Regions from separate parts of the Homo sapiens genome. Here region 2 is linked to region 1. The links come from fine-mapping of genetic effects on gene expression. A gene starts in region 1. The other region holds a variant in brackets. All regions are shown on one strand. Distances are between the middles of the regions. Region 1 holds the start of CX3CR1 (C-X3-C motif chemokine receptor 1). Region 2 overlaps LOC102724104 (a long non-coding RNA gene).

What was found. PIP is the estimated chance that this variant, and not a neighbour inherited with it, causes the effect.
Region 2: its variant is the best candidate, but not a certain one, in a credible set for the expression of CX3CR1 in neutrophils (Naranbhai 2015, PIP 0.79).

Annotation. Positions count from the first base shown.
Region 1 is chr3:39,276,952-39,282,330 of GRCh38, reverse strand. It overlaps CX3CR1 (C-X3-C motif chemokine receptor 1), which reads left to right and starts at 2,295. Exons shown (of 2, transcript NM_001337.4): 1 at 2,295-2,377.
Region 2 is chr3:39,257,012-39,262,390 of GRCh38, reverse strand. LOC102724104 (a long non-coding RNA gene) reads right to left here. Exons shown (of 3, transcript XR_940742.4): 3 at 2,928-3,789. Among named protein-coding and RNA genes, the nearest start is that of CX3CR1, 20 kb to the left of the region's middle. RefSeq lists a silencer at 5,371-5,379. The variant A/G (reference allele first, on the strand shown) is at 3,037.

The sequences.
Region 1 (5,379 bases):
TGAGAGTACGGGGGAGGGGTTGAACAAGAGTTCAGGGAGGAGAGAATTCCCAGCGCTGAGCCAGAGACTCCTTTACAGAGGCCCAAGGAGGCGTGGAGGGAGGGGGAAGGCTGCCAAGGCTCTTTCTGTCTCCATGAGTGTGTCAAGAATGCAAAGCACTAATGCTCTTCACTTGGTCCATCTTGCAGGGTTGAGTTTGCAGTGAGCAACCTTGAAGGATGAGCTGACATCTCGCTCAGGGCCAAATAACCGACTTGCTTACTGCTTGCTATAAAATGGCACGTTACCCAAGGTCAGAGTTCCCTTCCTATAACCTCCCCATCCCTCACACATTCACAGGTATCTATCCAAGCCATGGCATCACTCTGTGGGGCTTGGGGGCAAGGCAACTGACACTGGACGCTGGTTCTCATGCTTGCCAAGCATGAAGCCCTGTGCTGCTAGCAGCTGTGGAACATAGCCGTTAGCTTTAAAAGAGGGTAAAATCACGTCCTGGACAGGACAGCCAGGTGAGTTGGGAAGGGAAGAGAGCCTGCCACGGGCACAGGCATGTTGGGGGAAGTGGAAGTGGTGAGAGCACAGTAGGAAGTGAGAAGGGGCGGGCCGTGCTTACCAGGCCGTGGACTTAAACCAGGATGAGAGAACCCCTGGAGGCGTTTAAGTTGGCAGACTTGGATTTCAGGAAGAGCTCTCTGGCTTCTGGGTGGAGAATGGCCAGTGGGGTAAGTGGTGAGAGGAAAGACAGAGAACGGAGAAGGTTAGATGGGCTTGGGAAATTATCCAGGCCCTGGATGGAGGTAGAGATGTGTGCTCATGAACACGGAGGGGATTACTGATGTGGGGTGGATGAGACTGTCGTCAAGAGTGTGGGACAGGAAGAGAGGGAGAGTCTTGGCCAGATCCAAGAAAGGAGCCCTCAGAAGAGGAGGGGAGTCAGAGGCAAGGAAGGGGCTGAGGCAGCCAGCCCAGCTGAGTGGACCCCAGGAGAGGTATCAAGGGGTGGTGTGGGGTGGGGAGGGGCCAGTGTCAGAAAGTGGATGGGGAGCGGCCTGACTCTGCTTTTGTCCTGTGGCCTTCTGGCCAAAGGCAGGGAAAGGTGGCCAAACACTGAGACCAAGAACAAAGAAAGAAAACTGCTGGTGGACTTCTTCCACCATGAGCAGGCCACCAAGCCCGCAGCACTGCACTGCAGCCCCCAGCTCTGTCCTGGGGTTGGGGGAGGTGAGGAGGGGCAAGGTGGGGAGCACACAGAGCACCCGCTGTCCTCGGAACACCACAGCGACTAGAGGTAAGGGAGCACCGGATGTGGCTGGGATGTGGGCAGCAAGGGGCCAGAGGGGCCTTGAAGGGGTCACAGACCATTTAATGAAGGTGTATTGAAGGCCACCATGGGCCAGGCCCTAGTTAGGGATGGATCAGAATTATATAGCATATGCCAGGGGTCAGGCAGGTAATGAAGTGATCGGAAGGTGATGAGGCAGTGGCAGTTGAGATTCACGTTGCAGTCGCCCCAAGCTGGCCAGGCCAGGGAGCAGAAGCATGGCTGGATGCCGGAGCCCACCAGGCTCCCCACTGCAGGGCAAGAGTGGCAGGGGGAGAGACTGTGAAAGGAGCATAGGCCAGGTCCTGGGTGAAAGCTGTGTCCTCAGCCTTGACTGATGGGTATAGGGAGCCACTAAATGCCTTGGGGCAGAGAGGTGAGGAAAAAAATATTTACCGAGCATCTACAAGGTGCAAGGTACTCACTAGATGCCTTCAGTACCAAAGCTTCTCAAACTTAGTATGCATATCACTCTTCTAAGAATTTCATTAAAATGCAGATTCTAATTCAGCAGATATAGGGCAGGGCTTGAGGTGCTGTCTTTAATAAGCTCCCAGTGCCTGGGACTGCACTTTGAGGAGAAGAGCTGTGTGTGCCCCAGTGTGGTCCAGTGAGTACTCTGGGCTCCCTCTCGTGGGCAGGGAAGCTGAGGGCCCCATGAGCTCTCCCAGCTTCCTGAAGGCTCCCCATTAATGAGAGCTGACTGTGCTGTGCTTTGCTGACTGCAGGGCCTGCTCCCTGCCCCCCACCTCCAGGTTGGGGTAAGTGGCACCTCTCTCCCTCCAGCTCCGCAGTCTTCCCTGAGGTTTAGATCTTCCAGGTTTATAAAGTCAGGCCCTCCTGTTGGCAGCTGGCCTCCACCCTGGAGTATCTGAGCTTGCCTGTGGCAGCATCTAAAGATAGTCTCCCTTACAGGAAACAAGATACTATTGGCTAACTCTGCAAATAAAATGCTCTTAGAGGGAAGGAAAGGGAAATACTCGTCTCTGGTAAAGTCTGAGCAGGACAGGGTGGCTGACTGGCAGATCCAGAGGTTCCCTTGGCAGTCCACGCCAGGTAGGTGCACAGGACTAGTTGGGTACCTGTGGGTGGGGTGGAGCAGTGGACAGCTAATAGGTTAATAATGCCTGTTTGCTTACGTGCAGACAATGGAAACCATTTTCCTGGGGATGTTGTAGCCTAAATATGTCCAAGGGGATGGAAGAGTGGGAGGCAAGGGGTGATCAGATCATTTATAATACACTCAACCTGGTGGAATAGTATTAGAAGCATTAGTAATTACATTTTAGAGACATGGAGAAAAGCTCATGATTTTAAACTAACTGAAAAAAGCATGAAAAATTGCATCTGGATGCTGTTGAGGAATTATTGCTAATTTTTTGAGATGAGAAATTGTATTAAAGTCTTTTTCAAAAAAGAGTCCTTAACTTTTAGAGATGCACACAAGTGTTTATGGGTGAAATTAAATAATTCAGTAGAGACATTAAGTGGGAAATAGAGGAAATATTGACCATGGGTTGCTAATAGTTGAAGCCAGGTGTTGGGTATAAGGAGGTTCTCGCTGCTTTTATTTGAAAAGTTGCTTTTTATTTGAAAATTTAATAATAAAGAGTTTTTAAATTTGTATCTGTATTTTAATATAAATATAAATGCACTTAATATAAATATAAAATATGTATAACATTTAGATAGAGAAAAGCTAAAAGATTACTGTGGTTGATTCTAGGAAACTGCATTGCAGATAGTTTCATGGGTTTTTTTTTCCTTTTTCTTCCACTTTTTGTACCATCTATGGGTTTTTGTTTGTTTTTTGTTTTTTGGGTTTTCTTTCTTGTTTGTGTTTTGTTTTTTGAGACGGAGTTTTGCTCTTGTTGCCTAAGCTGGAGTGCAATGGCACAGTCTCGGCTCACTGCAACCTCTGCCTCCTGGGTTCAAGTGATTCTCCTGCCTCAGCCTCCCAAGTAGCTGGGATTATAGGCATGTACCACCGCCCGGCTAATTTTGTATTTTTAGTAGAGGCGGGGTTTCTCCATTAATAAATTCCTGGCACAAATTTAGTGTTCAATTTTGATATATGTTGTTATAACCATTGTGAGGATACTCAGGCTCAGGTTTGTGTGGGTGGAAAACATGGTCTTCAGAAAGAAATTATGAGTGCAAGACAGGAGGAAATCCATCAGAGGCCCCAGCTGAGGACTGACCACGGCTTGTTATTTCTCTTGCCTTGCCTCTGGCAATCACAGCCTCACAGAGCCTGCAATCCTTGCTTTGTGAGTTTATAGCTCAGTCCAGAGAATGGCTAAGAAAGTTTAGGATTCTTTCAACACCCACTCCACAAAAAAAAAAAAAAAAAAGAAAAGAAAAAAAAATTAATTTTTGAAATACTTGAGGTAGAAAACTTGAGGCAGAAAAAAATTGAGCCAAAAAAAAAGGAAAATTGAACCACGTGAAAGCAGGCAAGAAAGCTTGCATTGCTCAGGGCATCCCAGGCCCAGAGGGCGCTTTGGAGGGAGCTGGGTTTCCTGAGAGGAGGCAGGGTGGGTGACGGACCTGTGCTGGAGAGCCTTGAGGACCACTGTGGGTTGGGAATGGGGGCAGTGGATTGGGGTTCAAAACCCCTGGGAATGAGAAATGGGCTCAGGAAGGCTAGGGTGGATTCTTTCATCTTCCTCTTTGCTTGGCTTTATTTTCACAAAGGAAGGCAGGGCAGGAAATAGTCTCAGCCCAACTTCAGTGTGGTTCTTCTTAGTGCTCAGGCTTACCTGGCACTTGCCACACCTCTGGGATGGGAGCACCTACTATCCATCAGCCACGTGCCAGTCTCCACAAAGTCTGCTCCTGAACCCTGCTCCTCAGCTGGCCCCACTTCACAGATGGGGACATAGGCAGCTTGGCTTTGGAATGAAGGAATGAAGTCAGGAATGAAGTCCTGGCTCTGCACTTGGTGACTGTGCACTGGGCTTGCTAAGTCTGTTTCCTGCTTTTAAAATGGAGATTGTCCATCAGCCTTTGAAGCCATGTAATGGGTATGTGTCAACTTTCTGCAAGGATTAAAGGCATGGTATAGGAAGTCCCAAACACACTGCCTGACCCATCTTTGATGCTCAAGAAACGATATATGTTGTTGTCATGAGGAAACTGAGCCTCAGAAAGTTTGGATACCTGAAAAACACTGACTACTATTGAATGAGGTTGTGAAGAATCCAGAGCTGTAGGGGCAGGAAAGCAAAGAACGTATTAGAGCTGACCCAGTCAGGACGATCGTCTATCCCCTTCCTCACCCCACCCCATCCCAGGAGGAAGCCTGCCCGGCCCTAGGCAGCTATGGCACAGTGGCAATGTCAGGTATGGTTCTCCCTAGCCAGAGACCCTAGCCTCAAAAAACCTCCTTCTTGGGATCCAGGCATCCAACTGCTCCTCCCCAGCCCCAGCCTCTGACCCAGTATCCTGAGTCCAGAGACGTTTGGAACCAGCACCTGTAATGGAGGAGCTGAACAAGGAGGGGAACTTCTGCTGCTCCACAGCAGGTCACGGTCATAGGAGGGAGTGGAACCAGAATGGCAGAATCCAGATCTTGGCTGCCTTTCCCAAGGACTTGTTCTGATTCCTAGCAGCACAGCCCAGGCATTCCGAGAAGTTGGGCTCTCTGGCATCACTCACTCTGCCCAGAAGAGCCAGGGGAAAGTTGGGGCTTCTAGCTGAACCTTGATCCCACCTGCCCTCTTGAGGGGCTCAGAATCTGCTGGCTGCTTCACAGGTGGGATTCTCACGGCACGCTGGCCACAGCTGATGCTTCGACCCCCTCATCTTGTTTGGCCAAAGTGCAGCTTTTTAGCTTGTGAGTAAGGAAGAAAAGCTGTATCATATGTCTTTAAACATCTTCCTAGACCACCTTTGTTTTCCCCTTAAAGTGTGCTTAAGGAGAAAATGGAAAGTCTCTTTTCAGTGTGTTGTATTTTGTTTATTGCAAAATACAACACACTGAAAGAACAATGTCTGGGTTAGCAAAGTATTAGATTTAATTTCCCACATTACTACCATCCAGGCTGAGAAAGAGA
Region 2 (5,379 bases), 20 kb after region 1:
TGAATGGTGGTGATTATTTTTATACTTATTATTTTTAATATTAGACTGAGCTTTCCCCAGCAACTAAACACATGCTATCTTGTACTTGCCTTTTGCTTTTCTTAGTAGCAGAATCACAGACTCTTGGGTGGTTGGAGATAACTGGGTCCAAATCCACATTTCGTGGGTAAGAAAATGGAGGCTCAGAGAGGGCCAGCAGGTGCCCCAAGATGCCACAGTGAATTACTGGGAGAGGTAGATCCTTGATTCACAGTCTACCATCTCCTTCCTCATCTTGATAAAAATACAGATCAATCTGACCTCTAAGAGCAGAGAACACAGAAGGAAGGTCTGCAGGCAGATAATGAGGCAGGGAAAAGCAGCCCACAAGATAGCTGAAGAGTTTAACAGAATCAATCTGCACATGGACAGGTGTGTGCTGTGTGGCACAGCCTTTGGCAATTGCCTTTTGGAGACATCTGTATCTGCAATGATAGATGGTGTCAACTGAGACTCATCAGCAAAGGCTGCAGAATTCCCAGAGGCAAATGCTATCAGTGGCTTCCAAGAGGATCTGGGTGGGTGGGTCAAGACTTAGACAGACAGGCCACTGTGGAGGGACAGCCACACCCAGGGGCTGCCCAGTGCTTGGGTAAAATGCTGAATCCCTTCCACATAATTCCACTCACTTCATGCTTATTCTATGGTCATTTAATGACATTCTAAGAGAATGTCTCCTTCCCAGGGACCTTGCCATCAAGAAAGATGGAGCATATAGGCTTTCGGTTACTAAGAAGAGCTATCAACCCTTGTAATCCATTGCACCTAGAGTGTGTACAGGGTCTCATGGTTTTTCCATTCACCTCTCTCTGAGATGCTGTCCCTGAGCATCCAGGGAGAGAGTTCACCCAACAACTACACCTGGGAGCATAAGAGCCTGATTGAGAGGTCCACCTTGGGTAGTACCCGGGCCCAAGATGATGCCCATTTGTGCCTTCAAAATTGGAGCAGTTTGTCCTAACTCAGCAGCTAATTTTTTCTCCACCTGCACCGTACTCACTGGCCCATGGGGACCACTTCAGTTTCAACATGATTTGTAATATTGTTTGCTTAACTTGCTGAGTTGGCAACAAAATTTTGGGCTACTCAAAAGTAGTGTGATCTGAGAGCAAGTGAGAAAAGCGAGTCTTAGCAAATTTAGAAATATCCAGTTTCTCTTCAATATACTCTTCATCCACAGGAGGGCCAAGGGCCAAGTCGTTTTCTGAGGGATGTGTGGCATCGTGCTTCTATTTCCGTTACATTACAGCAGTTGTTAGGCAACAGGGAGTGTTCCTCCAGACACACCCGGGGCAGCGCTGGCAACCGCAAAACATGCTCAGCAGGAAGATTACTCTTTTACTCCATATTTCCTTATTTACTGAGATAGAAACAAAAATAACATTTTAATTTGCATTTCTTTGAATACTAGGTAAGATTGTTCATTTTTCAAGGCGTTTGTTTTAAATTATTTGTACATTTTTCTGATTCTAAAAGAAAGATACTCAGTATAGAAAACATGAAAAATATACAATTTAAAATTAAAAATGTTTAATTACACAATATTCAACCTCCCAGAGATAACTGTGGTTTAACACTGAAGTTATTTTCTGCTATGACCATATTTTAAAAAAAATACATAAGAATAGACATTTTTCAAAAGAAGACACACGAATGGCCAACAGGTAAGTGGAAAAATGTTCAACATTTCTAATTATTAGGAAAATGCAAATTAAAATCACAATGAGATATATCTCAGATTTGTCAGAATGGCTTTTATCAAAAAGACAAAAGATAATAAATGTCAGCAAGAACGTGGCAGAAGGGGAACTGTTGTGAACTGTTGGTAGAAATATGAATTAGTACAACCATTATGGACAACATTTTAGAGGTGTCTCCAAAACTAAAAATAGAATTACTATATGATCCAGCAATACCACTTCTGAGTATTTACCCAAAAGATGTGAAATCTGTTTGTTAAAGAGATGCCTGCACCCCCATGTTCATTGCAGCACTATTCACAATAGCCAAGTTATAGAATCAACCTAAGTGTCCATCAACAGAGGAGTGAATAAGGGAAATATGGCATATATACACAATAGAATACAATTCAGCCTTTAAGAAGAAGGAAACTCTGTTATCTGCGACAACATGGATGGAATTGGAGAACATGATGCTAAGTGAAGTAAGACAGGCACAGAAAGGCAAATACTGCATGTTCTCACTTATGTGTGGAATCTAAAGCAATGAAACTCATAGAAGCAGAGTAGAATGGTGGTTACAGATGGTAGGGGGTGGGGAGAGAGCAGAGAGCTGATGGTCAGAGGGTACAAAATTTCAGCTAGATAGGAGGAATATGTTGCTTTTTTCTTTTTCGGAGTTTTATTACACAGTGTGGTGAATCTAGTTAAGAATAGAGTATTGCACATTTCAAAATTGCTAAGAGAGTAAATTTCAGATGGTCTCACCACAAAATATGTTAAGTATTTGAGATGATGAGTATGTTAATTAGCTTGATTTAATTATTTCACATTGTATTCATAAATCATAACAGTGCTTTTTACCCCATAGTTCTATATAATTATAAATTGTCCATTTACAATTTTAAAAACTGAACAAAACCTAAAAGCACTTGAATTTCATCAATAAGAAAATGGTCCAATAAATTTCAATTTAGCCATACAATAAAATACAGTATAATTTAAAAGAATGAGTCAATTCTATAAATATGACCCTAAAGGGATGTCCATAATATATCCTTAAGTCAAAAAGACAAATTTCAGAGTTAAGCACATTTTTATTTTTAAATATAAACTATATATATATGTTTATATATATAAAATAAGCACATTTTTATTTTTTAAAAATTTGAGATGAGAACATATATACAGTTTTATATCTTTTTTCAATTAGCATTATAGTATGATCATTTTCCCATCTATTATATTCAAACATGATTTTGAATGATTGCAAAGGACTCAATAATAGACTTTATCCATCCAAGCCCTACTGACAGAC[A/G]TGGGTGTTACTCCCATGCTTTTCTCTATGAGGAGTGACAGTATGATGAACATAAATCTTTGCACATATCTTTGATTGTATGAAAGGAATTAGTAGACTAAGAGATTTCAGCATTTGTAAATCTCTTGCTAGCTACTGGAAATTTACTTTTCAGAGAGATGACACTGTGTTGCTGGCTCTCTAAGACTCCCAATCCCTGACCTTAGCACCACCTACCTTCCTAGTCTTTGAGGTCAGGATATTGTGGGCTTTTGTTATTGGGTGACAAACCAGCTACTGACTTTAAGAGGCAGAAAGAAAAGACTTCTGTTCTTAAAAGGAGATGGTAAGGCTGCCCTTTAGAAGAGAGAAAAGAAGAGGGATGAGGGGATTTTTAAAACAGGACCCATAACATCCCAAAACAGTTATTTTAAGGGAACAGAGACCACTTAGCACCTGGGCTAAGGGGACACAGGACAAGCCATCAGAGCCATACAGCATCAGGCAAGAGCAGGAGGTGGAGAGACTTGTTCTGAGGATAATGGGGTTTCCTAGCAGGAGAAGAAGAAATAGAGGTGAGCAGAGCAACCATAAAGCCCTTGTGCAGTTTCAATGTTCAAAATATCCACTTCTATACAAAACTTAAACAACCTGCAAAAGGCAACAGAGAGAACTGATTCAAGATTTAGCACAGTTGATTGGACTTTCAACGTATCCACCGTCATTCTGGATATACTTGTACATAGCCATCTCAGCATAATGTAGAGCTCACACCTGTAAAATAAAAGAAAGAACAAAATCAAACATTAGCAACTTTATTTAAATATTTTGTAAATTATCTCTCGGTTGCATTTCACAAATTATCTATACGTTACATGGAAGTAAAATTTATTAAAAGTTCAAACCATAGTGACTTTATGCATACTTTATACCTTGGGCTTTGCTGGCAGCAGTGATGCTCCAATCAGCCAGGGAAATCCATGAGTTCCAGCTTTAAGAACCCCTTGGCATATCCCGGTACTCTTGCTTTGGGGAGGAGGATGCCCAGCTGCCAGACTGGGAAACCTAATATCAAAAGGCTCATTTACACTTCCAGCACTACTATATGAGTTTCCCTTTGAAAGCGCATTATTTCACTGAGGAAATAGAACCAGAAAAGAACTTCCATGGCCTACCCCAACCACATCTTCCCATCTTCCTGCAGCTGTGCCAGTGCACTCTGCAGTCCCTCCTCGTATCATGGAAGAATCGTCCCTGCGCTTATCTAAAGCCAAACCTGCCACCTGAACGATGCATCCCAGCCCCTTTAACCTTCCCCTCCTGCATTTATCCCCTCTCCTGCATTATCTGTCTCTCCCCTCTGCTGGATAATTGGTATGCAAGCAGGCCAGAATACTTCTCATTTTTAGGAGCCTCCCCTTGATACCACATCTCCCCCAGCTCCTGTCCATGCAGAGGCACTCAAAAGAGTTCTCTCCAGACAGCTCCCTATGAGCTTGCCCCATGTGTAACCCTTCTATAGCCCGCAACCCAATGTCCCTGGCCTGTCTTTCCCCTTGAGGTGAGCTCATTCTTGAATTTTCTTCTCAACCCTCCCCCAGACACACTCTTGTCAAAGTCACCAGCGTTCTCTGTGTTGCTAAATCCCATGGTCCATAATCAGGCCTCCCCTTACTTGACCCATTAGCAGAATTAGGCAAAGTTTCTTGAAGCAGCTTTTCCATTCAGCTTTGGAGATGCCACTCTCTCGGTTCTCCAACAACTTCACTGGATGCTCCTCTGCAGTCTCCTTCTCTGGTTCCTTCTTGCCTCCCTAACCTCTGTGCATCAAGGGCTTCAGGCTCAGTCTCCAGACTTATCTGCTCCTCTTTCCTTCCAGCTTCCCTCTTCTTCTCCCCTCCCTTCTCTTCTGTCCTTTCTCAGCCAGTCGCAAAGCCATCTCTCTACACTGACAAGGTCTAAACCTTTTCTCCAGCCCAGACTTCTCTGAAGTCCAGATGTGTGTATTCAATTCCCTAACAACTTCCCTTGGATATAGAATCAGCATCTCCTGGCACTCATCGCAAAACCCACTCCCCTACAGTCTGTGCTGTCTCAGTAAATGACAACTTTATTCTTCCAGTTGCTCTGGTCAAAACCTCGGAGTCATCCTAGATGATCCACTTTCCCTGGCACTCCATGTAGGGCAAAACCTACAGTGGTTTCTTTTTTAAAATAGCTCTACAGGCCGGGCGCAGTGGCTCAAGCCTGTAATCTCAGCACTTTGGGAGGCCGAGCCAGGTGGATCACGAGGTCAGGAGATTGAGACCATCCCGGCTAACACGGTGAAACCCTGTCTCTACTAAAAATACAAAAAATCAGCCG